Linked DNA regions of Homo sapiens: all the other regions are linked to region 1. Evidence: fine-mapped expression QTL. A gene starts in region 1. Each other region holds a variant in brackets. All regions are shown on one strand. Distances are between the middles of the regions.

Region 1 (8,183 bases):
TTGCTAGGATCACTAACTTCCTGCAAAAGTGACTTGAATATGACCCAGAGGGTTCAAGGTCATTTATCTTTTGTAAAAAAAGGTTAAAGAGGTGGATTACTCCTCTTGGTGCCCCAGTCAGGGAGGAGAGTTCCCAGCTGTTCCTGGGCTCAGTCCCCAAAATTGCCAGGCGCTAAAGGGTAGAACTTGTGTGGTGGGCTTCTTCGTTCCCAGGCTGGGCAGTGCCTCCCTAGAAAGGGCAGTGGAGACCCCACCCATCCCTGCACCTTCATCGCCAGGCAGGGGTGGCACCCGCTGGAGGTTCTGCCCGAGCGAGCATCTGCAGCTCTGAAGCATCCCTAGTGCCAGGGCTTTACTCGTTGGGGAGGCACACTGTACGCGGTCTGTACGTGGAGTGCCCCGTGCCTTCTGCCACTCAGGGCACCGTGTGTGACGGTGGGAAACTGGAAACTAACAAAATACCCAGCAAAAAATGCATACTTAACACAGCCTGCAATAAATGCATAAAAGCTATGTGCATGAAGAGTTTGTCAATGATGCAGACACACTTAGGATACAACATTCAGCAAGATACATTTACTGTATAGAAAGATAGGTAGATCCTGCGGATAATTTTAAATTCTTATATATGAGATCATATATATTAAAATACATGTATGTATTTTATGTTAAAATAGTATATTTTATTTATAAATATATAAAATTTATATATTATTATATATTATATAAATATCATATATTTATCTAATATATGATATTTATGTAATATATAATATATAAAATATTTTTATATTTTTATATAATATATAAACTTATAACATGTTAAAATAGTATATACTATTTATTATATTTTTAGAGAAGGGAAGAGAGTTTAAGCAGTAGAGTTTTTAAGATGATGGGCTCTGGAGCCAGGTTTGGGTTTGAATCTTCACTTACTGGATATTAGACCTTGAGCAAGTTACTTAACCTTTATGTGCCTCAGTTTCCCCAACTGAAAAATGGGAGAAAAGTACTTGCTTCTTAGAGTTGTGTGGATTTAATAATTAGTATGTATAGGGTGCTTAGCATGGTACCTGGCACATATATAATATTATACATGCCAGGATAATAGTAACAATTCTTACCAATATGAAGCTTGCCACCTGTGAATAAATAAATTAAATGTGTAAAAGGGACTGAAAGAAAATGTCGGCCGGCGCGGTGGCTCACGACTGTTATCCCAGGACTTTGGGAAGCCAAGGCAGGCAAATCACCTGTGGTCAGGAGTTCAATCCCAGCCTAGCCAACATGGTGAAACCCCATGTCTACTAAAAAATGCAAAAATCAGCCAGGCGCGGTGGCGGGTGCCTGTAATCTCAGTTACTTGGGAGGATGAGGCAGGAGAATCTCTTGAACCCAGGAGGAGGAGGTTGCAATGAGCCACAATTCCAACACTGCACTCCAGCCTGGGCGACAAGAGTGAAACTCCATCTCAAAGAAAAATAAAAAAAAAGAAAATATCTATGGTACTTGCCTCTAAGAATTCAAGGTTTTTTAAAACATGCTTCTTTCAACTGTGCTGTAAATTGCTAACTTTTAAAATTGATGTAACTTACTATTATGAGGAGAAAATTAGCAAAGTTTGCCTTCATTAGGTGTGAATTGCAATGACTTTGAACCCACTATGCTTTCTAATTACTGTCAAAAATAGGCTTTTGATGTGAAAATAGCAATGAGGTACCTAAAGAGGAGAGAGCTCACCTCCAGTGTTAACTCCATCTGCTGTGCGGCTCTCTTCTCAGTTTAAATCTGCAATTCTTTGCTTAATGCCAGTATCTCTTCTTGCCATAAATCTCTTTGTTCTATTCTATACATAATGCTCTTCTACCCCTGGCCAAATCCTCTCCACATTAAACATGACAATCATAGCCACAGTTTGGCACTTTTTGGCATTTTTCTCTTTTTGGCCACAATGGCTAGGAGTGATAACTTTCAAAAAGCAGAAAAGTCTCTACCTATCCAACAAAATGCTCTAGAAACTATATAACCACCATTAATAAATAAATATGGCTTGGCTTTTACAAAATGTTTCCCTGAGAGGTTTCCAGATCACTAGAGAAGACAAAGCTTTACTGGGACAAATCATGCGGGGTTGGTGCTGCTGGCACTGCCTGGTTGCTGACTGCCTGGGGCACAAGCAGTGCCTCCGTATCCTGTCACACCTCCGACTCTGCACATGCTGTGTTCCCGCTGCCTCATCCCTCAAGACCCAGTTCAAGCATCTCTTCAATTGTGTGGTGGTTCTGACCTCCCGAAACTGAGCTGGGCATTCTCTTTGTGTCCCCACCACTCCTGTGTATGCTCCAGGCTTGCGGTGGTCTCCCAGGACCATGGTTAATCTGTGTGCTTCCCTCTCTCCCCTGCTGCCTGGGATCCCCAGGAGAGCAGAGAACATGCAGATGTACGCCCTTGGCCAATCACAGTGCCTAGGAAATAGAAGGTATCTGATAAGAGTTTATTTACAAGGTAGTGTTTGCATTTTACAGGGAAAAAAAAAAGAGTTCAGGGCAGCAAGAAGAAAGAAGATGAACAATTCCGACATCCATATCCAGGCAAAATGTAGACAGCCCAGAGATTTCAGAGATTTAGTGGGCACGGTCAGGAAGTGGGGAAGATAAAACAAATCATGTAAGTGGGGCTAATGCAACCTTTTTCTATACTCGTGAAAACCCAAGGACCCAAGCCTTCCCATCTAGTTAAAGACTTTCCTCAGCCTCTCCCCTTGAATCACCGAATCCTAGACTCTCAGACCTAGAAGTAACCAAAGAACTCAATCAATGTATTTCAATCAACACACACCTTATTTCTCTATTATTTATTTATTATTATTTTTTAAGTGTCATCCTGTGTGCCAGGCACTGGAAACTCGAAGAGTAAAGTCCTTTCCTTGTAAAAATGCTGTTTAATGGAAACAGACATTTAGATTATGGTATGAGAATTAACTTCTAATTCAACATGGTACCTGGCCCTTCCTGAGATGACCTTCAAAAGATACTGAATTAAAAATAAATAAATAAATAAATAAATAAGTGGGGTGAGGTATTTTAAGCCACAGTGATGAAAAGATGGAAGGGATGCCATTAGCTAACTAGAGGTTCAGGTTTCATAAACTTCCAGAAGCCAGACTAGAGAGGGAATGTGGAGCTGACACAGGAGAAGGGTGCATACCTGGGGGGACCAACTGGCCCTGAGGAAATGCAGAGACTCAGATACGCCAGACAAGTGTTGGGAGGAGTGCACAGCAGCGCTGGGACCAGGGGTCTTCTGTGAAATCCTGTCTACAGAGCAGGTAGCTCCTCTACCTCCCACCCCAGGGCCACATGCAGATCTCCCAGGAGCCAGGCGTTCACCCCAGGCAAAAAATACCGAAAGCTCTTCTGATACAAATTGAATCAACCAACAAGAACTAGAGCCGCTAACGCACAGTCTGGCATTCAGAGGCCTCCAGAATGCCAGCTGATTCTGTCCTGAGCACCCCAAAAGTGACACCTGCCAGACACCAGCGCCCCCTGTGGACACAACACTCCCAGTCAACCTTCTCTGCCTCACTCTTAAACACACATGAAAATCCAAGGGTCATGTAGCACTTAAGGAAGGAAACATGAAAACAACATCCAGGAGAAGAAACAGAAGAAAAGACACCAAAGCAATCAGAGAACAACCAGGTATATGTGAAGAAGAAGCACACATCCCCCTCTAATTACCATCCTCAGGAAGACTGAGGGCCACACTCTGTTTCCCAACCAACCCAATCACTGAGCCACTCAACAATCACACAAGAGGAGCTCTCACGGGTGAGCCTGTTGATCTGGCTTTACTGCTGAGGGGCCCCCAGGTAAACTGAAGAGCTGTGCAGAAAGGCTGGGGGTATGAAAGCCGCACGCTCCCCACTTCAGCACACAGGGTCAGCAAGAGTTGCAGTGATGTTCCCACATACAGTCAGTTCAGCTATAACGCTTGTTTTGAAACTGCAAATTTGTACGGACAGATTGACATATTACAGAACAATTTGAATACCTTGTGGGTTTTGTGTGTGCCTGGTGATTTCCTCTGCAAGAAACACAAAAGTAAGTTCAGAAAAATGGTGCCCAACTGACCCCAGCTGCTTGAGAATATACAAAAGGCGCACACACACCAGCCTCAAGCACCTACCACCTACCTCCAGTCACCACACGTGTTAAAAGCCATGTCCTTCCACACATGGTGTCAGAACTTTCCATAGGGCTCCAGGTCTCTGTCCTTCTTCCATTTGGCAGGTCCTCAAGAGCTGCAAGCCTTCCATTGAAAAAACTTTATTTCATTTACCTTTGCACTTTGAGGTAAAATCCCATCTCTACTGCAGTATTTATGTATCTCTTAACCATTTAGCATGTGTAAAACGGTGCTGCCCTTTTTATTAGGTTTTTATCTTTTTAAAAAATGTGTCATTGATGAAGTTTTTGAGAGCTGTTGCCCTAAGCCTGTATTCGTCATAAACCCTGCGGTTTTTATTGCCCAATCTTGCATGGTGCAATAATTTTTAGGAACACATATATCAAGTTATAGTAGAATTGATTATGTGTTTACATTTCTGCCTGCAAGCTACAATTTTCTCCTAGGGGAGAACATGGCGGGAGAGCATGGTGTGCAGATTCTAGTTTAGAAAATATGGTCCACACAACTGAATTTCACACCAGTCACCCCTAGTTCATTGTTTCTGGCTACCCCAAAACGTTCATCACCGGCTTGCCTTTCTCCCTGCACTAAGCTAGAATCTCAAAGAACCAATTGTTGGGTTTTGTTGGTAGCAATCTGTGTATCATCCATTTTTTCCTCCATCAAACACAAAATTAAATTCAAGCATAAATAATGAAATTGTTGTTCCCGGCTTCTGTTTACAGAGTCTCAGGGACGCTGTGGAGCTGGGTGTGCCTGGGTCCAGTCCCTGCCCCCTCACCCACCGGAGCTGTGTGACCTTGGACAGCCTCCCTCACTCCCTGAGCTCCAGTTTCCTCAGCCATAAACAGAGATAACAGTGCTGACTTCAAAGCTGACTTTGTGAGGATTAAATGAGATAATGTAGTAGAGTATTTAGTACTGTGGCTGGCACTTCAGTGTTTTCCCATTTATCTGTTTTTTTCAAGATGAGTGATCTCTTTGCTGATCATAAACATATTCCTCCATCTGTCTTGTGTTATTCGCCTGCATTGAAATCCCATCCCAATCCCCGTCTCTATTTGAAAGTGGAGCTTAAAAATTGCAAAAATGAATAATTGGGATGTGCAAAACCTCTTAACTTGTAGCACCAAGTTTTTTGTCTCATGTTGATCAGTCTCTCTCTTCTTGCATTTCTCTCCCATTAGTTTGGAGTTGCCATTCATTCCTTCATTTATTCATTCACTCAACAAACATTTATGGGTGCCTGGTATCTACTGGCTATGTGACTGACTTAACTTCCCAGAGCCTCAGTTTTCTTGGCAAAATGAAGATAATAATACCTCTATCATAAGGTTGTTGGAAGGCTTTCCATGACACCAGGACCGTAAAGCACCTTTTACACCGTCTGCCATATGGCAGGTGCTCAACAAAGGATATCTTTAAGCAGTATCATCACGATGACAATGGACAAGCCATATCCCTAACAGGGCTTAAACCTGGATAACAAGAACACTGTTTCCACTGCGCTAGTGGGGACAAGCACACACATCGCTGGGAAGATCTGCAAGCCTCCCTCCTCCCACAGACCCAAACATGCTGCTGCAAATGTCTCACTGGCTACAAAACAATGAGTCTGATTACGACCCACAGAAATGAAAAGGCAGCAAACTTGTTTAGGTATGATTCATCATTGTCTGCTGCGGCAATCAGAAGTATTTTGGTTGCTTCTAGGTCAGAATGACCCAGTTGCCACACTTTTTTTCACTGCTAAAGTTCGTAATGAACCTTTAAACAAAAACTAAAGGCGTAAGGAAAGATAACTACTTTGTGGCTTTTGCTCAAAGTGAGGACGTTATCAGCTCTGCCCTTCAGAAGCAAGCCCTGATCAAGGAAACCATTCACACTTGATTTTCTTTATTTTATTGGCCACAATTGAACATAGGTATAATTTTCATGAACCTCCCTCGCTCCAAGACCAGAGCTCCTAGGAAGTTGTCTTTCCCATCTGTTTCCCGGCCCCTACCAGAAATAAGTGCCATGAGAGTGTTGACTGATGAAGGGCTCCTATACGCGGGTTGATTTTCAAGCAGTTAAGAAGCAAGAATTAATGACTCGAATATATGATCTTTGCTAAACTCTTCAGGAATAAATGAACATTTCCCACTTTATTCTTGCTAATGTTGACTCCTTAGCAAAGATAATTTCAACATATTTAATATGGCATATTCAAATGACAGAAAGTACGAAACAATAGTAGAAAGCAGAGAAAAGTATATATAAAGAGAGAAAGCGGTATCATTCACATCTTTAACACCTAATCTAATTGTAATTTTCTTAAATGCATAGAAAAAAGACTGGGAGGAAATACACTAAAATGTTAACAGTGGGTATTTTAAAACAAGAATTAGGCGAGGTGCGGTGGTTCATGCGGTAATCCCAGCACTTTGGGAGGCCGAGACGGGTGGATCACTTCAGGTCAGGAGATCAAGACCAGCCCGGCCAACAGGGCGAAACCCTGTCCCTACTAAAAATACAAAAATTAGCTGGTCATGGTGGCAGGTGCCTATAATCCCAGCTACTTGGGAGGCTGATGCAGGAGAATCGCTTGAACCCGAGATGCCAAGGTTGCAGTGAGCCAAGATGGTGCCACTGTACTCCAGCCTGGATGACAGAGCAAGACTCTATCTCAAAATAATAATAATAATTAATTAATTAATTAAATGTTTAAAAATAAAATAAAAGCAAGAATTATACGCAATTTTTTTTTCTTGTTTCTAATCATCTGTATTTTCTAAATTTTTTACAAATGATCACATGCATTTTTTATAAACAGCTTTTTTGGGGTAAATTATAATCATGAAATTCCGTCAAGCTTGAATCTCTCTGTAGGCTGCACAACGTGGAACAGATGAAAGGAACCAAATGCTGGAGTCGCACCAACCTGGCTCTGCCTATCTCCAGCAGGCAAGTCACTTAACCTCTATACAATTAGTGGTCTGAACTAAACCAGCTCCTTGGCAGCCTAGGCTCTAGCTCAACATCTGCTTGTATGCGTCAAGCAACTACACTCCCACAGTAAACTGGGAACCTACTGGGAGCTAAATAGAAGCAAATATCCCCAGGCCTGGGTGACACTGACTGAGCTGACCTCCAGTACAGGGCCTGAGGCCACTCAGGAAGCAGCCAGGGCACCTGCCCACACCCTCCAAACAGGCCCACCTACCTAGGGAACTCTTTCTCCCTGGCACTAGGCTAGTTTTGGGGGGGTTAATGGAGTTATGGACTGGGATGGGCAGCCTTGTACAAAGGGCTTCTCTGGCCAGAGAGAGCCGGTGTCTGCTCCGCAAACACCAAACTTCCCCACCCTTCCTGGCCAGCCTCAGATCCTATTTCCCCCACACAGCCTTCCCACATTGGCCAACCCTCACTCTAACCCCTTTTTAAAAATTGTGTGTATTAAACTTAAGTAGATACAAAAGAATATTGGTATGTATGTTGCACAGACTCATGATATGATGAACACCATGCACCACATGCAGGTTCTGGTGAAGGTGCACTTCATCATCGTCTTTGAAGTCCCCTTCTTGTCCTCCATCCCTGCCCCCCATTAACTCACATCCTGAATTTTATGTTTATTTTTCCCTTGCTCTTCATGATTTTAACAACATGATGGATTTAATTGTAACTTAATTTTTTTTTTTTTTTTTTTTTGAGACCGAGTCTCGCTCTGTCCTCAGGCTGGAGAGCAGTGGTGCAATCTCAGCTCACTGCAACCTCCGCCTCCCGGTTCAAGCGATTCCCCTGCCTCAGCCTCCTGGTAACTTAACTTTTAACCTAAATTTTAACATAGATTTTACTTTTTTTTTTTTTCCTATTTGGCAAAGATCAACTTTAGTGTGCATAAGAATCACCTAGGGCCGGGCGCACTGGATCACACCTGTAATCCCAACACTTTGGGAGGCCAAAGTGGGTGGATCACTTGAGGCCAGGAGTTGGAGACCAGCCTG
Region 2 (8,183 bases), 20 kb before region 1:
AAAGAGTCTGTCTCTTCCCACCAGCCCCATCAGCCCCCTTGTTTTCCTGCACTAGAAAACCAAACTCTCAGAGGACTTCTCTCTTCTGTTTGTCGGACAAATGGGAAAATCATAGGGCTTGTTCCAGTTTTCATACCAACGTGGAGCTGGACAAGCCGGCTGACAGCTGGCAGGGAACCTTCAACCGCAGCACCGGAGGAATGAAGGCTTAAGCCTCAGCGCTGTCCCTGGACAGTGCCACATGTCCAACAGCAGATAAGGGCACCCTGAGCTGTCGGAATGTCAGACACAGCCTCCCAGTTAAAGGTGGGCAGAAAGCAACTATCAAGATCTTTCAACAGGAGGGAAAGCTAATTTGGAATCCTCAAAGGGCTTTCTACTCCTCTCTCCCGCTGTGGGCAGCCCTGAGTCTACTCAAGCCCTTGTCTGTCCCCTTTTTATCTCAGAGCTTGGCCAAAGCTGAGTATGCAACTGCTGCTCAGTCACTCAAGCTTCCAGCAAGCCACCCTTCCATCTTCCCAAATCACAGAATTCAATTACTTCAGCTTGTGAGGTGAAAGCACTTTGTGGATTTTAAGGTATCATTCAAATAAACATTACCATCAATATCACTATTATTAATCCATAATTAGCCACAAAGCTCTTCAATACTATAGATGTAGAGGATGACCAGGTAATTCATATTCCACCAAAGTCTTTCAACTGGCCAAAAACAGTCCATAAAATACTTTCCAGCCATTTCTCGGCTCCCCATAAAATCACAGTGACGTCTCCCATGCCAGAAAACATCAGTGCTTTTGATGTGAATGCCAGCGAATTCTTGGTTTTCCTAATGCATGGTTTTGACCACAGTCTAGTTTCTCTCAGACCCACATCCAGTTCTTCCAGGGGTTTAGAAGGGCCATTTGCAAGGTTAATTTAGTAAGGATGTTTTAAACAATGACACAGAAATGCCTCCTGCTAGAATAAGCAACTATCAGATCTCACACAAGCTCAGTGTGGGGCCCCTTGAAGACAAGCACCTCCACACCTCGTTCTTCTCTAGGTGCAATTCTCTCCAACCCAACCATCCCCTTCCACATACACACTCACGCACAGCAAGACCACCCCAGCACAAGACCTGGCTCACTCAGTGCTTTCTTCGTTAATTCTAGTTTATTAATTTTTGTTTTAAAGTATAGCCCCTTTTCACTTCAATAACTAAGAGAAGTCTGCGGGTAACTTCAAGTCAAAGACATCAACTTACAAAAAGAACTTCCATAACAGAGCTATCTCATACTATGGATCACTGAGGGGTTACTTCTGAAATGAAAACACACAGCTATAAAAAACAATCATTTCAATCTCTGCATAATTAAATAAACTCTAAAAAGTCATCCCTATGCCCGAAGAGAATTTAGTTGTTTATTCTTGGCATATATTAAATTTATAATGTTTGCTTTTGGTTTTTAAAAGTTTCTGAGAGTTCTCATACCTACTATTACTTTGCAAAGATATAGCCACAAATCACAGGACAAAGAAAAGGAATATATTGCTGAGGGTCAAAAGCATGTTAAAATTCCTTGCTTTTCCAAGTGAAAATGTCAAACCTTCTAATAAGAGCATAAGTAACAACCGATTGAGAACAATTTGTCCTCTTCCTTTCTCCTACTGATTCAATGAATAATTTTACTTCTTGCAATTTTATGGCTGAAACTTATTTACATTTTAGCCAAAGTAAGAACTTGTACCCAGTTTTCTTTTTCTAATAATTCTTTTCTGCTAGATTCAACGTTATCTACATAAAGAAAAGAGTTTCAAGTTCTGGTGCTAACATTAACTGCGCACAATAAAAGAAATACACAGATAAAAGCAACGTGCGTCTCCCACCTTCTAGAGCGGCAAGCTGCTGCTCAGCTTCCAGGTACAGCTGGGAAAAGATGGGCCTGGGCACCAGGTTGTTGGACCGCAGGGATGCCTCGATGGAATTGTGCAAGACCTCTTCAAAGCGTGTCGTCTTCAGCTGTCCAGCGTAAGAATTTCCCATCTTCAAGAGGATGGAGTCTTCTGTTTAAAATGGCATCTCAGATTCGGTGCAAAAGCCTGGCTCCACGCAAGGTAGAAGGTGAAACAGCTGCAAGGAGGAAGGGCCGTGTAGCCTTCGCTCAGCAGAGACGAAGAAAGGGTGGCTGTCCTCAGCTGCAGCTACTGCCGGGCAATTACAGGAAGTTATATAAGTAACAGCTTTCTCTAATTTAGCACTCAGCAGAGCCTGACACCTCTTAGACTGTTTCACTAGGAGCTGCCTCTTTTGCCATCCCCAGGTTTCACAGGACTCCCACTTTTCCCAGAGATGTGGTCCTGCCCCTGAGAGTTCCCAGACGAATGACGTTTCATTTTCCATGACCTGCAGACGAATGGCCCTCCAACACTCTTGTAAGTGACGGCAAATGAGCGATCCACCAAAACCAGTCCCAGATTTGAGGATTAGAGGAGCCGGCCTCCCCCACCTTCCCAGAAGATAGGCTAGCAGGTCTCCCACCATTGTCTTTGCTGGTAAAAGGCTGATTATTCTCATTCTTCCTTTAAAATGTTTTTTAATCTACTAAATGTTTCCATGATTCAAGTAATACAGAATTATATCTGGAAAACCTGGAAATCACAGAGGAGTGGGAAAACGAGGAAAATCACTGACATTTCTATCCCCCAAGAGATTTATTTTCTATCCCCCCAAAAATCACAGAGAACCACTGTGACTTTTTTTCTGTAGCAACTTAATTGAGATATAATTCACATACCTTACCACTTAAAGTAGACAACTCAATGGTTTTTCGTATATTCACAGTGTCGTGTAACTATCATACGATCAATTTTAGAATGCTTTCATCACCCCAAGAGGAAACCCCAGACCTATCACTCTGCAACCCTCCAACCCCTCCAGCTGGAGGCAACAATTAATTTATTTTCTGTCTCTATAGATTTGCTCATTCTGGATACTTTGTATAAATGGAATCATTCAGTACGAGGTCTTTTGTGACTGGCTTCTATCTAACGTTAGCACAATGTCTCCAAGATTCATCTGTTTAGCATGAATCAATACTTCATTCCCACTCACGTATTTTGATGTATTGTTTTAGACTTAATTCTCTTCAGAACTTGCAGATGGGAAGGGATGGGAGATTGTATTCACATAATTATAATCATACTATAATACACATTTTTATTGTTTTTGTTTTTCCTTGACATAAGCATTTCGCTCAACCCTCTTGCAAATGTTTTTAGAACAATTTTAATGGCTGCTTCCATTGAGTGAAAATGCTGATATTTGTTCTGACATTTCTCCCTGATCATACATAGGGTTAAATTTCTATTTTCAGTCCTTCCCAAGAACAGGCATTTAAATGTGTATATGTCCATAATGTTTTCCATTTATTTTCTATTTCATTACATTTAGCTATTTGTTATATTTCTCTTTATTTCCCTTTGGTTTAACTTGTACTTTTTCCAAACTTTTCAAAATAGTTACTTTATTGTCATCTTTAGTTTTCATCTTCATTAACAACGAAGACATTTAAGGCTATACGTTATTCTCTGGGCACCTCCTTTGCTATGGTACAAGGTTTAGTATGAAGTGTTCTCCTTTTCATTTCTTTCTAGACAGTTTATCATTTCCCTCTGATTCCCTCTTTGATCCGTTAATTATACAGGAGTGTGTGTTTAATTTTTAAACAGTCAAGACAGCAATGGGGGGTGACTTCAGCTTCATATTATTTATTTCCAGTTTTTAATAGATTATAATCAAGACTGTGGTCTTTAGAAACTCTACTTTTGAAACTTGTTAAGGGTTTCTTTTTGACATATACCTGCTGGAGTTTTACAGATATGAGAAAAGACATTCGTAAACTCTACAAGGGATGAAAGGAAATCAATCAGATTATTCAACTGTTCTATATCCTTGTATGTCTCTTGTCTACTAGCCTGTTCATCTTTAAAGTAACATTTGACATACAAAATGGCACCAGATGCCTGCACTGAAATGACCACAGAATAGCAGTTTCCTGCCTTCATCTACAATTACTGCACACAGACCAGTTATGAAACTGGCTTCATCGGTCAAGCGAGATCTCCCATTCACTCTAACTCAAGCCATGTGTAATAAATTCCCCTCGTCCTTGTTCTGTTGGTGGCAGAGTAGCTTCAAGATGTCATCCTTCATGCCCTGAAAGAGTTCTGCTTTCCCTCCCGAAGGTATAATAACTGGTAGAGTCACGTTGATTTCCCGCCCCTATTGTAAGAAAGATTCAGCCTTTCCTCTTCCAACTAAAAGTAAATGGAAGGCATTAACCACTTCCTGCTTGTGGCAATAACTTCTGACCACAGGGCCCCTTGGTCAGCCTCTGCTTATAGCCTGGGGAAATGAGCTGTGGGAAGATTGCTTCAGGAATTAGCCCCAACAAAAAGAAAGTGCTCCTGAAAGAGAGAGGTCAGCAGCCGGAGTAACCTAACAGGAGAGCAGAAGAGGTTGCAGGGTCCTCT[T/C]GTCTGCCTTTTTTCTCGATCTGTGGCAGACTTTAATATGTGACTGAGGGGTTGCCAGCCACATTTGGGGACACCTGCATTATTCTCAACTCAGGGTGGTGTGTTTAAAGCTGCCACCAACGAATAACATCCCAAATGCCCTCTGTTTCCATAGCATCTTTGTCTATAGAGCTTAAGGCACACAGGAAGAAGCTTTAAGGTGGACTCGTTTTACATGGAGCCCCTGAAGAATCATGTCCTCTGACAGAAAGAACACATCGGGGCATCCAGACCCTCCCTGCCCAAGGTCCTGTTCAGCTGACCTCACAGCTGATTGGCACCCAGGAGACTCCAGCAGCGAAGGGACATGTAGGCCTGATGTAGACGGGGCAATAAAAATGAAGAAGGAAAAATAATATCCACTGTCCAGCCACTGCGTGCAAGACACTGGGCACACTCCCTACTTCACACACATGGTAGCCCATGGAAGAGGTATGATGAAGCCCATTTTATAAATGATACATTTGAATCTAGAGATACATAGCCGGCAGAAACGCTTGCTGAAAAAAAAAAAATAGAATGGGGGAAAGATGGAGAAAGAGACAGAGAAGCTAAAAACAAGACAGCATAGAAAAGTGGGGTTTTTTGTTTGTTTGTTTTTTGAGACAGGATCTCACTTTGTTGCCCAGGCTGGAGTGAGTGCAGTGGCATGATCTCGATTCTGCAACCTCTGATCCTCCCACCTCAGCCTCCCCAAGTGGCTGGCACTACAGGAACATACCACCATGCCAAGCTAATTTTCACATTCTTTGTAGAGACGGGGTTTCACCATGTTGCCCAGGCTGGTCTCGAACTCCTGGGCTCAAGAGAGCTCCCAAAGTGCTGAGACCACAGGCATGAGCCACCATGCCCGCCCAGTAAAGTTTTCATACTCACAAAATTAAAACTTTATTTTATAGCCCTAAACAAACATCAAAGTTTTAATGTCTGTAAGCAAATAGTGAAAGAAAAAATAAATACCACTCCCTATCCCAAATGACGCATTTGACATCAGAACAATAAGTACATACCACTAAAGAAGAATGAGGAGGCATTGCAACAGTATTCAAATCTGCGGCTCTTTTTTTTTTTTTTTTTGAGACGGAGTTTCGCTCTGTCGCCCAGGCTGGAGTGCAGTGGCGCGATCTCGACTCACTGCAAGCTCCGCCTCCCGGGTTCACGCCATTCTCCTGCCTCAGCCTCCCGTGTAGCTGGGACTACAGGCGTGCGCCACCATGCCCGGCTAATTTTTGTATTTTTAGTAGAGACGGGGTTTCACCGTGTTAGCCAGGATGGTCTCGATCTCCTGACCTCGTGATCCGCCCGCCTCGGCCTCCCAAAGTGCTGGGATTACAGGCGTGAGCCACCGCGCCCGGCCAACTGCGGCTCTTTTTGTTATTCCATTGTGGCCACAACCAAACAGTGTGGGGACTTTCTAGATACCATGGCAGTGCTCTATCTTACAGACAGACCCTGACTGCAAAGCCACACCTGCTGGGTGAGGAAGGTTTGGGCCAGACCGGTCCTGCCGCGGAGGTACATCTGGAGCTCTCTGACCCACTGGAATCCGTCATTTGACCAGTGGAGAACTAAAGACCCAGACAGGGAAGAGCCTAGTTCAAGGTCACACACTAAAGCTTCAATCCTCCCAAATGCCGCATGGAGTGGAGACAACACCTATCAAAGGCCTCCTTGGGATGGTCCTTCTTTCCCTGGGCTGGCCCTGACCACTCGTTCTCTGTCCGTGGTCTCTTTGCTAGATCCCTGCTGCAGTTATTCAACTCTGCAGACTGCCTGTGGGATTTCTTCCACGCCCTAACACATCACATCCAACGCCTGCATTCCAAGGCCTGGACCAGCTTCTCTCCAGGCTGGTGTGTGATGCTCTTCAACTACAGAATCTGAAGCAGTGCCCATCAGGGCAGTGATGATGGCCGAACAACAGCCTTCACCTTAATGCACAAAAGCCTGGCTGTACTAGTCTGTAAACAGCATGCGCAACCCCACGCAAAGTGATTTAATCACTGGGCCTTGGTGTTCTCAACTGTAAAATGGGCACTTAGAAAAACTGATTGCTCGTTACGGACAGTAAGAGAGACGGAGTATAGTCAGTGCGTAATCATTAATTTCTAGTTAAATCTGAGCATTCACAGGAAAAGAATTTCAGATTATAAATGACAAGTGACAAAAAAGCACTATTGTCCATAAGTGCTACAACTTAAAAGAGGGGAGAAATCAGTGAGAACTTGGTTTACAATGGGGCTGGTACTGGAAGCAGGCCAGGAGGGCTGAGTAGGATATTTTTGGCCACGGCTCGTCCTGCTCCACTTCTTGGTTCCATGACCGGGAATCGAACCCGGGCTGCGGCGGTGGGAGCGCTGAATCCTAACCACTAGACCACTGAGTAGGATGTCTTTGGAAAAAAAACTAAGAACAGCATTTGAGGAAGGGACAGGAGAGTGCAAAGGCACGAAAACTCCAAGGGAACAGACATACTCTAGAAAAAGAAGTAAGTTCATTTGCCTAAGAGTAAATGGTTTACAAGATGACACAGTGATAGAATAACAAAAACAAACCCAAGGGTGAAAATCAGACATTGTATAGGCGACAGACACTCCCTGGACCCGCAGAGCTAGAGACCGATGATAGTAAAGATAATGCCAGTCAATCAGACAGAAATGATTAGGATAAAACTGGAGGGAAGACCTGCAGGCAGGAGGCCGGGCAGACACTCTTTCAATAGGACCTTTGATATCTGCTTATCTTTAAGAGTGAGGCACAAAAAGTTGCTTGGAAACTCTCTACGTGGAGATTCAACTGGTTGCCTGGTGGGCTTCATGGGAGGTGATCAGATGTGGGTTTGTTTCACCATATCAACCTCAAACATAGCTCCATGTCAGCTCAAATCACAGCACCAGTACCTAACTTCCACTGGCCCTTCTGATCCCAGAAGCACCATGGGCTTGACCAGATGAAGCCAACTGACCCAGGTCAGTTTGAAGTGGCAACAGTGAGCTAGCTCAACATGCTCTAGGTGGCTGGGACATTGACCTGAGCTATTCTCTTCCCATGGTACCAGTAAATCTGTGTCCTTTAGAGGACTCGGGTAGAATGAGAATTTTTAGGTTGAGTTGAAGTTCAACTAGAATAAGTGCAGGGCAGAAGCTTCAAGGAAGATAAGGAACTATTAAAGGCGGGGACAAAGAAAGGAGAGGAGGCTTCTGGTGAAATGGGACAGATGGAGAACATGCATTGTCTCTAGTCCCTTCAAAACCTCACTAGAAGGACAGTGAAGGAATGTGCAGGTATAAGGACCCAAAGACAAAGAGACAGGAGAGAAAATCACGGCAGACAAGATATGCCAACAAAAGTTAGCATTTTCAAAGCAGACGAGAAGTAGGGCTAGATTTGGAAAGTGTCCTTTCCAAGCCCAGTCCTGAACTGGGTGAGGCCTCCTGAGGAGCAAACTGATTCAAATGCACAGAACCCAGAGAAGGCTTGGGAATTCCAGGCAACAAGGTGAAAAGTAGGGCTGAAGAGTGGGAGGACTCCCTCTCCCTTCCCGAGCAGCCCTTTCCCCTTCTCTGCAGAAGTCTGGAAGTTTACTCAGGACAAATTAAACCAAAGAGAATCTGGACTCTTGGACATAG
Region 3 (8,183 bases), 79 kb before region 1:
AGAAGGGCGGCCCCAGATGCCCCCTAGCCAGTCTCCTGGTGGGCCCTGACCTCTGACCTTTCCCCGTCCCAGACCAAACAGCAGGGACTCTCAGCCGCTCCCTCAGCCACAGCTAGGCACACCCCCGGCCCCAACAACAGGAGCCTGCGGCCACCGCACACACCCGTCCCCGCACCCAGGCCCTGCACGTCTCGCCCCTGAGCCTCTCGGCCCTTAAGGCTTCCTGCACTTGCAACACCTTCCGCAAGGCCCGACTGAGGGTCAGCTGCTCTCTCAAACCTGTGGTAACCTCACCTACCCTGAAATCTGCCCTCTGCCTTGGGACAAAATTACAGACTTCTTCATATGTGAAGTGAAAATGTGTGCAAAAGACTACTGCAAAATAACACGTCTTTTATGAGAACAATGAGTTCGTTCCCTGAGGTCAGGTCTACATCTCATTTATCCTTCAGTGCTGATCCAGATAGCAAGTAGGCCCTCAGAATGCTTTTGGCGGAAAGACAGGGACTGTGCGTGCTGATGGCCGACGGTGGCCCCTGACTTGCCCGGGGCCTCTGTTTCTCACCAGGGGCTCTGCCCTCCTCTGCGGGATCCTGACTACTCTCGGAGACAGAGGAACCCCTTAGGGCAGAGACCGTGTGGAGCCTGTGGTTGGCACTGCCCACCCGCTGTGGCTGTGGCTACGCGGAAGGCTCATGAGCTTGTGTTGCCTTTTGTTGCTCTTCCCCCAGTGAAGTCTCCATGTCTACTTCTCTCCTTGCGCTCAGCTCCTCTCCCCACAGGGCACAGGGTTTTCCCAAACCAACAACGGCAGGGAGAACACCCGGGGACCCGCCCCTAACACGGCCAGGACTCAGCCTGAGGCCCCAGCCACAGTGAGGGGCAGGGTCCACGGTCCTCCCCTGAGCACAGGGGCAGCAGAACCCTACAGTCTTGCTCAGTCTTCAAGTTCTCCGATCCGAAGTTGACCACAATATTTACTCTCTAGAGAGTCTAGCACTTCAAAGATTTCCTTATCTTTCCAGTTCTGATGGAAAATAAAGGATCAGCAAATAGCCCTCTATAGGTTTCTTTTCATTCTCTGAAACCTCAAAAATCAGTCTGCTGGTCTGGTCCTTCCCGTGTGGGAAGACTCACCGGAAGCCTTGGAGGAGAGGGATGAGGATGCTGAGTCGTGGGAGCGGGACCTCTCCCTTTTCATGGGGCTTCTCTTCTCCGAGGTAGAGCCTGTTCCAAAACACACACGCTGAGAATGCACCGAAATCACCATTCCTGACATTTGCCCAGCACTTCACAGTGTGTAAAGTGTGTTCCCATGCATCACCTCTCCCCATCCATTTACTCATTCACTGCCATCTTCCAGGCCCCCACCATGGACAGAGCACTGAGGAGACAGGAGGGAGTGGGCTGCAGTGCAGGGAGGCACTCTGGGTGCAGCGAAGGCTCCTGCCCATGAGGCACAGCTGCAAGCTGGTGGAGGAGATGCAAAGAGAGAGGGGTCGGGGAGCCTGGGGGAAAAGCAGGGCATCTCCTGGAAGAGGGGGGCATCTGGCCGTCGCCCTGAAGGGCCTCAGGGTTTTGCAGGTAAAGTAGAGAAAGGAAAACTCTGAGCAGCAGGAAGGGCAGCCGTGCAGCGCAGAGGCCAGAAGGGCAGGGCACAGCCCGGCCACTGCAAGTTTAACGTGGGCCAGTGCTCAGTGCAATGCGGGCTATGGGTAGAGAGAAGCAGATGGTGAAACTAAAGAAGGGGGTCCTGAGATGCCAGGGAGCACGGAGACGTGCAGCAGATACTCACAAATGAAAGAATTAAATCAGAGTCTCTGCCGTGCTTCGAAAAGATGGCTACAGGCGGGCAGGCCTTTCCATCTACATTTTACAGACGAGCAAGCTGAGGCTAAGAGAGGTCCCACAGTCAAGACAGACAAGGCAGACCACAGACCCGCGCTGGTGCCCACACCCACCTCCTTCCATTCCACACACTCCACAAATGCTTTCTAGTTTTTGAATGACTGTCTACGTCTTTCTCATCACATTGTTGACTATAGTCAATGCCTTGCGATGTTATCATTTATGTGTCCTATTAAAAAGGCGGCATCAGATTTGAAGAGTCTGCAAATGAGCCTGTTTTCACACTTCTTAAAAATGGACAGCACGCTGTTGGGTTGATTCACAGAGGAAATAAACAAGCAAATCACACTAGGTGGGAATTCCACCAGTGAGTGGAACGAGGAACTCTAAGAAATTTTGAACTTGAACTCTAAGAAATCTTAATTTTTCTTCCTATTCTTTAAGAATTCTAGAACTAGGAAAAACCTATAGGGATTTCCATTTTCTCACACCACCAAAAGAGATGGGGAGAAAACAAACAAAATCTGAATTCAGTGAGAGCTCTGCCATTTCATCCAACACTGGAGACCTCTCATCCAGAGCCGCTGTCCAGCAGACAGGTCCCAGGACCCTGCTGAACTGGAGACAGCTGTCTCCATAAGCACAGGCAGCCTCAAAGCTCAGAAGCCAAGAAAGACATGCAGACAGGGACAAGTAGGCTGAGGGCAGCCATCCCTCACCTTCTGTCCCCAGCTCCTCATCCTCGTTGTCTGTGCTGCTCAGCTTCTCAGCATCACTCTCCAAGGCCTCGTTCCTAGCCCCCTTCTCCAAGGGAACCTCGTTGCTCACAAAGTAGGCAGCCAGGCCCAGCTCCTGCTCCAAGGCTGTTCTCACCAAGCAGGAGGAGTTTATCAATCGCAGGTCACAGTACCTCAAAGACCTAGCAAGACACAGAAGAAGGTGTCTGTTTAGTGCCTTCCACAAGTGGAGTGCTGTTCCCACTGCGGCAGGCAGCACTGATCGGGACCACACCCCACCTTCCTGGTGAGGACCCAAGGACTCGTACAAGTGGAAAAGCCAACAGTGTTACTGGGAGCTTGCAGCAACAAATTCAGTATAATAGTAAATCTTTGGGGACACCCACTATGCATTTAGCTCTGTGCTGCACTAACTTTTGGGTCAGATAAAAAAGGGGCTTGCAGCACTTTGGGAGGCCGAGGCGGGCGGATCACAAGGTCAGGAGATCGAGACCATCCTGGCTAACACGGTGAAACCCCGTCTCTACTAAAAATACAAAAAATGAGCCAGGCGTGGTGGCGGGCGCCTGTAGTCCCAGCTACTCGGGAGGCTGAGGCAGGAGAATGGAGTGAACCCGGGAGGCAGAGCTTGCCGTGAGCCGAGATTGTGTCACTGCAATCCAGCCGGGGCGACAGAGCCAGACTCCATCTCAAAACAAAACAAACAACAACAACAACAACAAAAAGGGGGGGCTTGAACCTGAGCTCTGCTACTTCCTAGCGACAGAAGCCGTGACAAGCTGCACAACTTCTCTGAGGCTCTGATTTTTTCATCTGAAAGATGGGAATGAATATTAATAACCATCTGGCTGGGCGTGGTGGCTCACACCTGTAATCCCAGCACTTTGAGAGGCGAAGGCGGGCCGATCACTTGAGGTCAGGAGTTCAAGACCAGCCTAACCAACATGGCAAAACCCCATCTCTACTAAAAATACAAAAATTAGCCGGGTGTGGAGGCAGGTGCCTATAATCCCAGCTCCTCGGGAGGCTGAGGCAGGAGAATCACTTGAACCCAGGAGGCGGAGTCTGCAGTGAGTTGAGATTGCACCACTGCACTCCAGCCTGGGCAACAGAGTGAGACTCCGTCTCAAAAAAAAAAAAAAAAAAATCTAAGTCCGCTGTGATAAAGATTAAATGTAATCAGTGAGCATTTAATTATTCAATCCAAGTGAACACAGGCCAGGGTACTAGATGCTAGAAATATGATGGCAATCAAGTCGGACACCAACAAGCAATGCTATCTGTGAGCAGCAGAGGAAAGGCCAACCCCGTGCTCAGACTTGCGCAGCAGAAACACAACCAAGGCAAAGGGCTTAGAGAGGGGTACGTGAGGGTTCCAGTGGGGCTCTGAAACTTACTGCTCATGACCTCAAGCAAATGATCGTTCATTGACTCAACCATGAAACAGGATGGTAATACTACTGCAGCAAGGAGTAAGTTTCATATGAAAAGTCTATCATGATGCCTGGTACAAAGAAGGTACCAGAAGGTACCTGGTATTCAGCAAATGCTTGCTAAAATTTAAAATAGATTAAGACATTGTCTCAGTCCTTAAGGAGTTGAAGAAGAAAAGAATTAATCCATGTGAAATAGCAACAAGCAAGGTCAAATGTTCTGGAGCCCCCTTCCCCTGGCCCATGAGTATGCAGCATGCACAGGGCCGTTTGCTGAAGTGTGGGGTGCTCCTGGGGGAAGAAGCCAGGCCCACTGCTGGCCAGACTGGCTTAATCTCAGTAAGCCTCAGTTTCTTCATCCGTAAAATGGGACTACTGAAATAGCACCTTTCCCCCAGGATTAAGGTGAGAGTAAAATGAAATAAAACCTAAAAGAAGAATCTAGGACAGTTCCCAGAACATAACAGGAATTCCACTGATGTCGGCTTTTGCTATCTTTTGCTGGCCGTCTGCTCTTCTCCACCGGTATGAAGTCTCTAAAACCCAATCTGTCACTACCAATCCAAGAAACTGCCTTACAGGAGGCCCAGGGACCTGAGTCTCGAGTGTCCGCATGTCTGTGTGGTGGCCTAGAGACCCCCCACACCAGCGGACATCGAGTGGATATGTGGCTAAGACTTTCCAGGCTGTGATGGATTCAGAGGGACACATCTTTTGAGACAGTCCACTCTGTGCTGGAAGAACCAGCTCTTCCCGAGCAGCGTCAGTTGCCTCCACTCCCAGAACGCCTCCTAAGCCGGGAGGGCCCAGGCATTGCGGCAGCCTAGGTACCAGCAGGAACTGTGGCTGCAACTCCTGGAGAGGATGCCGTACTGTCCCAAGCAGAACTGCCATCCCCAGCACACACAGAGCGCCCCATGGGGAGACACTGAACTCAGGAGGCATGAAATCCTGACTCCACCTGCAGAGCCTCCACCCGTAGAGCCTGGCAACAGCCGTCACCACGAGCCCAAACAGCGCCTTTCTGAGAATCAGGAGAAGGGGCA[C/T]GGGCCTCAGACGCACTCAGGCCCATGCTGGGAAAGCCACGATGAAGGCCCCACCCACGGGGCCTGTGAATGTGAGTGGTGCTGCCTACCGTCAGGGCACAGCAGCCCCCCTGACATGCTCCTTGAGGGGGCCCAGGCAGCCAGCTCCTCAGAGACCCCCAGGGGCATAACCCCTCCACTCACCTCGGCAAGGACTCCCCATGCGGGTCCATCCCACTGAAGATCAGGATGCAAGGCAGACCCTCCAGCTCCAAGTAAGTCTGGGGTCTCCACTCCACATCCTCAATTTTCTGCCACATCTGCAGATAACGAAAAAGAAATAAAGCCACAGACGCCTCCCTTCCCAACCAGCCCAGCTCAGAGGAATCCTGATGGCCTCCCACACCAATTTAAACTCCTTGAACTATATCTTCTGACCAAAAGGAAATTTCTTTAGACTGCAAATAAGCACACCATCCACTTGGCCACCGTATTTTCAGTCGGCTAGAACATGGAGATTAGCCAGCCAGAGCATGTCCAAGACATCTCTATCAGCTGACCAGCTCCGTGAAAGGAAGTCTATGTTGTCAGCTGCTCCTTAAGTCTTTTTTTTTTTTTTTTGAGACAGAGTCTCGCTGAGTCACCCAGGCTGGAGTGCAGTGGCGCAATCTCAGCTCACTGCAACCTCCACCACCAGGGTTCAAGTGATTCTCCTGCCTCAGCCTCCCGAGTAGCTGGGACTACAGGCGCACGCCACCCCATCTGGCTAATTGTTGTATTTTTAGTAGAGACAGGGTTTCTCCATGCTGGCCAGGCTTATCTCGAACTCCTGACCTCAAGTGATCCGCCCGCCTCGGCCTCCTAAAGTGCTGGGATTACAGGTGTAAGCCACCGCGCCCAACCAGCTGTTCCTTATGTCTTGCCTGTGCTCTCTCCTGACAGTGTCCTCCCTTTCATTCCTGTTTTCCACTCATTTGTTCTTTCCCTAAACCTTTTGCATTTTCTGTCACCTGCAGATTGAGTGAGAACCTACTATGGGCCAGGCGCTGTGCTAGGCTTTGGGGGCTGAGTTCTGTGGGGATGGCCATTGCCCCCCACCATCTGGGAGAGGGGCTAGATGACAGGCAGGGAGCATGGCACTGCCCTGGGCATGGCAGAGGGGGAGGGTGGCTTCCTGAAAGAGGAAAGACACCAACCTAAGTGCTGCAGAAAATAAGCAGGGCAGCTCACACCTGGAACCCAGCACTTTGGGAGGCTGAGGCAGGAGGGTTGCTTGAACTCAGGAGTTTGAGATCAGCCGGGGCAACATGGAGAAAATTTTAAAAATTTTAAAAATTAGCCGAGTGTGGTGGCACACGCTGGTGGTTCCAGCTACTCAGGAGCCTGAGGTGGGAGGATCCCTGGAGCCCAGGAGCTCAAGGCTGCAGTGAGCTGTGATCACGCCACCGCACTCCAGCCTGGGCCACAGAGTGAGACCCTGTCTCAAAGGGGAAAATAAAGAAGCATCAGCTAAACAAAGAAGAGAGGAAATGGATGCCCAGGAAAAAAGAAAGCAGGCTGTTGCCCAGAGGTCTAAAGTCATAAGGCAATGCTGCAGGGGTGTGGGGGTGCTGCTGGGGCGGAGGGCAGAGGTGGGGAAGCACAGAGAGGAGGCTGAGGGGTGGCTGGGTCTAGGGAAGCCACGTTGGCCACGCTGTGGGGTTCGTGACACTCCCTGCCTCTGGTGGGCCCCTCAGCTCTCCCAGGTACCCCCAGGCCCTCCGCCCCTCCCTGCGCACAGCACCTACCCTGAGCTGCTTTACGAAGTGCTTCCCCACGGTGACGCCTGAGCTGGGACTGCCCAGGATGATCTCAAAGTGCTCCTCCAGCGCCAGCCGGGCCCGCACGTGGGCCAGCCGCTCATAGGCCACCACCGCCAGGGGCGAACAGGGCACCCGCAGCAGGACCATGAGCCCGTGGCCGCAGGGGCACTGCTTCGGGGAGTTGAGGAGGTTCTGCGTGATCTCCAGCGTCTCCACCGACGTGTAGTTCTTCATCTGCGGGAGGCCGCTTACGGCCATCAGGGCGGCCGCGTAGTGCTGCACGAGAACAAAGGTCCTGATCACCGCGCTGTGCAGGCGGGGGAACCTGCAAGGAACACAGAGAGACCATGTCTGTGACGGCCGCGCCCACCGGCCTGCTGCTGCCAAGTCACCCAAGACATCCGTCACTCTACCACAGGCAACTCCGGCATTATACGCAGTTGTGTTGCCTCTGGAAGGTGGTTGTGGGAACCTGAATGAGAAGCCTTCTTTAGAAATCAAATTATACAGTCCTTTGTTTTTTCCAGCTGGAAAACAAAAACATAGGTTTGTTGTTATTACGTTTTTCCAGCATTTGGCACTTAGTAGCTGCTCAATAAATATTTGTCCAATGAATGAGCAGATGAATAAATGGTATAAATGCCTATTTTGTCTCTATCAGCACAATGTGCAGCTCTCTGAGGAGGGGACTAAGTTGCCTCTGGTTCCTACTAGAAACAGGAGAACCACCAGCAATCAATATGGAAATGCAGCTACCGGAGGCCCGAGTTCTAAAGGCCCATCTCTGTGTTCACTTCGATCACAGTGAATTATTAGAAATATAACTAAACGTATTTTGACAGACTAATTACAAATCAGAACATATCCAGCCAAATCAAGAATCCCAGTTTTTGCTTCAGAAACTGTGGTTACTATCTGTGTCCCCACACAAAGGTGGTGGCTGCTCCCACAACCACCTGCTCTCCTAGAGTGGCTCTGACCCGTTAGTCACACAGACCCCAGGGCACCAATGGAAAAGCCCAGGTCCCTGTAGATGATGGTGTTTCTCAACGTGAATAAATAAATTGGTATCCAGTTTATGCACAATGTTCTTCTGGGTTGATTGAGCTGGAATGGGTCCTCCTGACTCTGGCTTTTTGTAGCAAAGGTAAGGTAGTTTCTCGACCTACAAAAATGAGTACCATACCGTGGCCATGCCACCCTGTGAGTTCTATCAGGGCAGCCAGCTCGCCTTCCTACAGCACTTGATAGCATTTCTGACATTGCGATGACATCCCTGCTCCTTCTTCCTGACCATCCTCCTCCTTTTCTTCATGTTTCCTTCAGCACTTCATCCAC

Which allele goes with the higher level. Positions count from the first base shown, and alleles are read on the strand shown. Sizes are in standard deviations (SD) of each study's normalised expression.
For the expression in memory regulatory T cells of the gene that starts at base 4,408 in region 1, allele C in region 2 goes with a higher level than allele T (large effect, 1.3 SD a copy in Schmiedel 2018).
For the expression in caudate of the gene that starts at base 4,408 in region 1, allele T in region 3 goes with a higher level than allele C (moderate effect, 0.59 SD a copy in GTEx).

Evidence for each region. PIP is the estimated chance that this variant, and not a neighbour inherited with it, causes the effect.
Region 2: its variant is fine-mapped to the expression of GREB1 in memory regulatory T cells (Schmiedel 2018, PIP 0.95).
Region 3: its variant is fine-mapped to the expression of GREB1 in caudate (GTEx, PIP above 0.99). The same link has a PIP of 0.9 or more in amygdala, anterior cingulate cortex, cerebral cortex, hippocampus, prefrontal cortex and putamen.

Annotation. Positions count from the first base shown.
Region 1 is chr2:11,530,270-11,538,452 of GRCh38, reverse strand. GREB1 (growth regulating estrogen receptor binding 1) reads right to left here and starts at 4,408. Exons shown (of 33, transcript NM_014668.4): 1 at 4,199-4,408. RefSeq lists an enhancer at 1-314.
Region 2 is chr2:11,550,458-11,558,640 of GRCh38, reverse strand. It overlaps GREB1 (growth regulating estrogen receptor binding 1), which reads right to left. Exons shown (of 33, transcript NM_014668.4): 2 at 1,870-2,187. The coding sequence starts at 2,026. It also overlaps the pseudogene TRG-CCC7-1. Among named protein-coding and RNA genes, the nearest start is that of MIR4429, 14 kb to the right of the region's middle. The variant T/C (reference allele first, on the strand shown) is at 4,516.
Region 3 is chr2:11,609,675-11,617,857 of GRCh38, reverse strand. It overlaps GREB1 (growth regulating estrogen receptor binding 1), which reads right to left. Exons shown (of 33, transcript NM_014668.4): 18 at 6,831-7,170; 19 at 5,248-5,363; 20 at 2,568-2,767; 21 at 1,138-1,227. Among named protein-coding and RNA genes, the nearest start is that of NTSR2, 56 kb to the left of the region's middle. RefSeq lists an enhancer at 1,133-1,633. The variant C/T (reference allele first, on the strand shown) is at 5,065.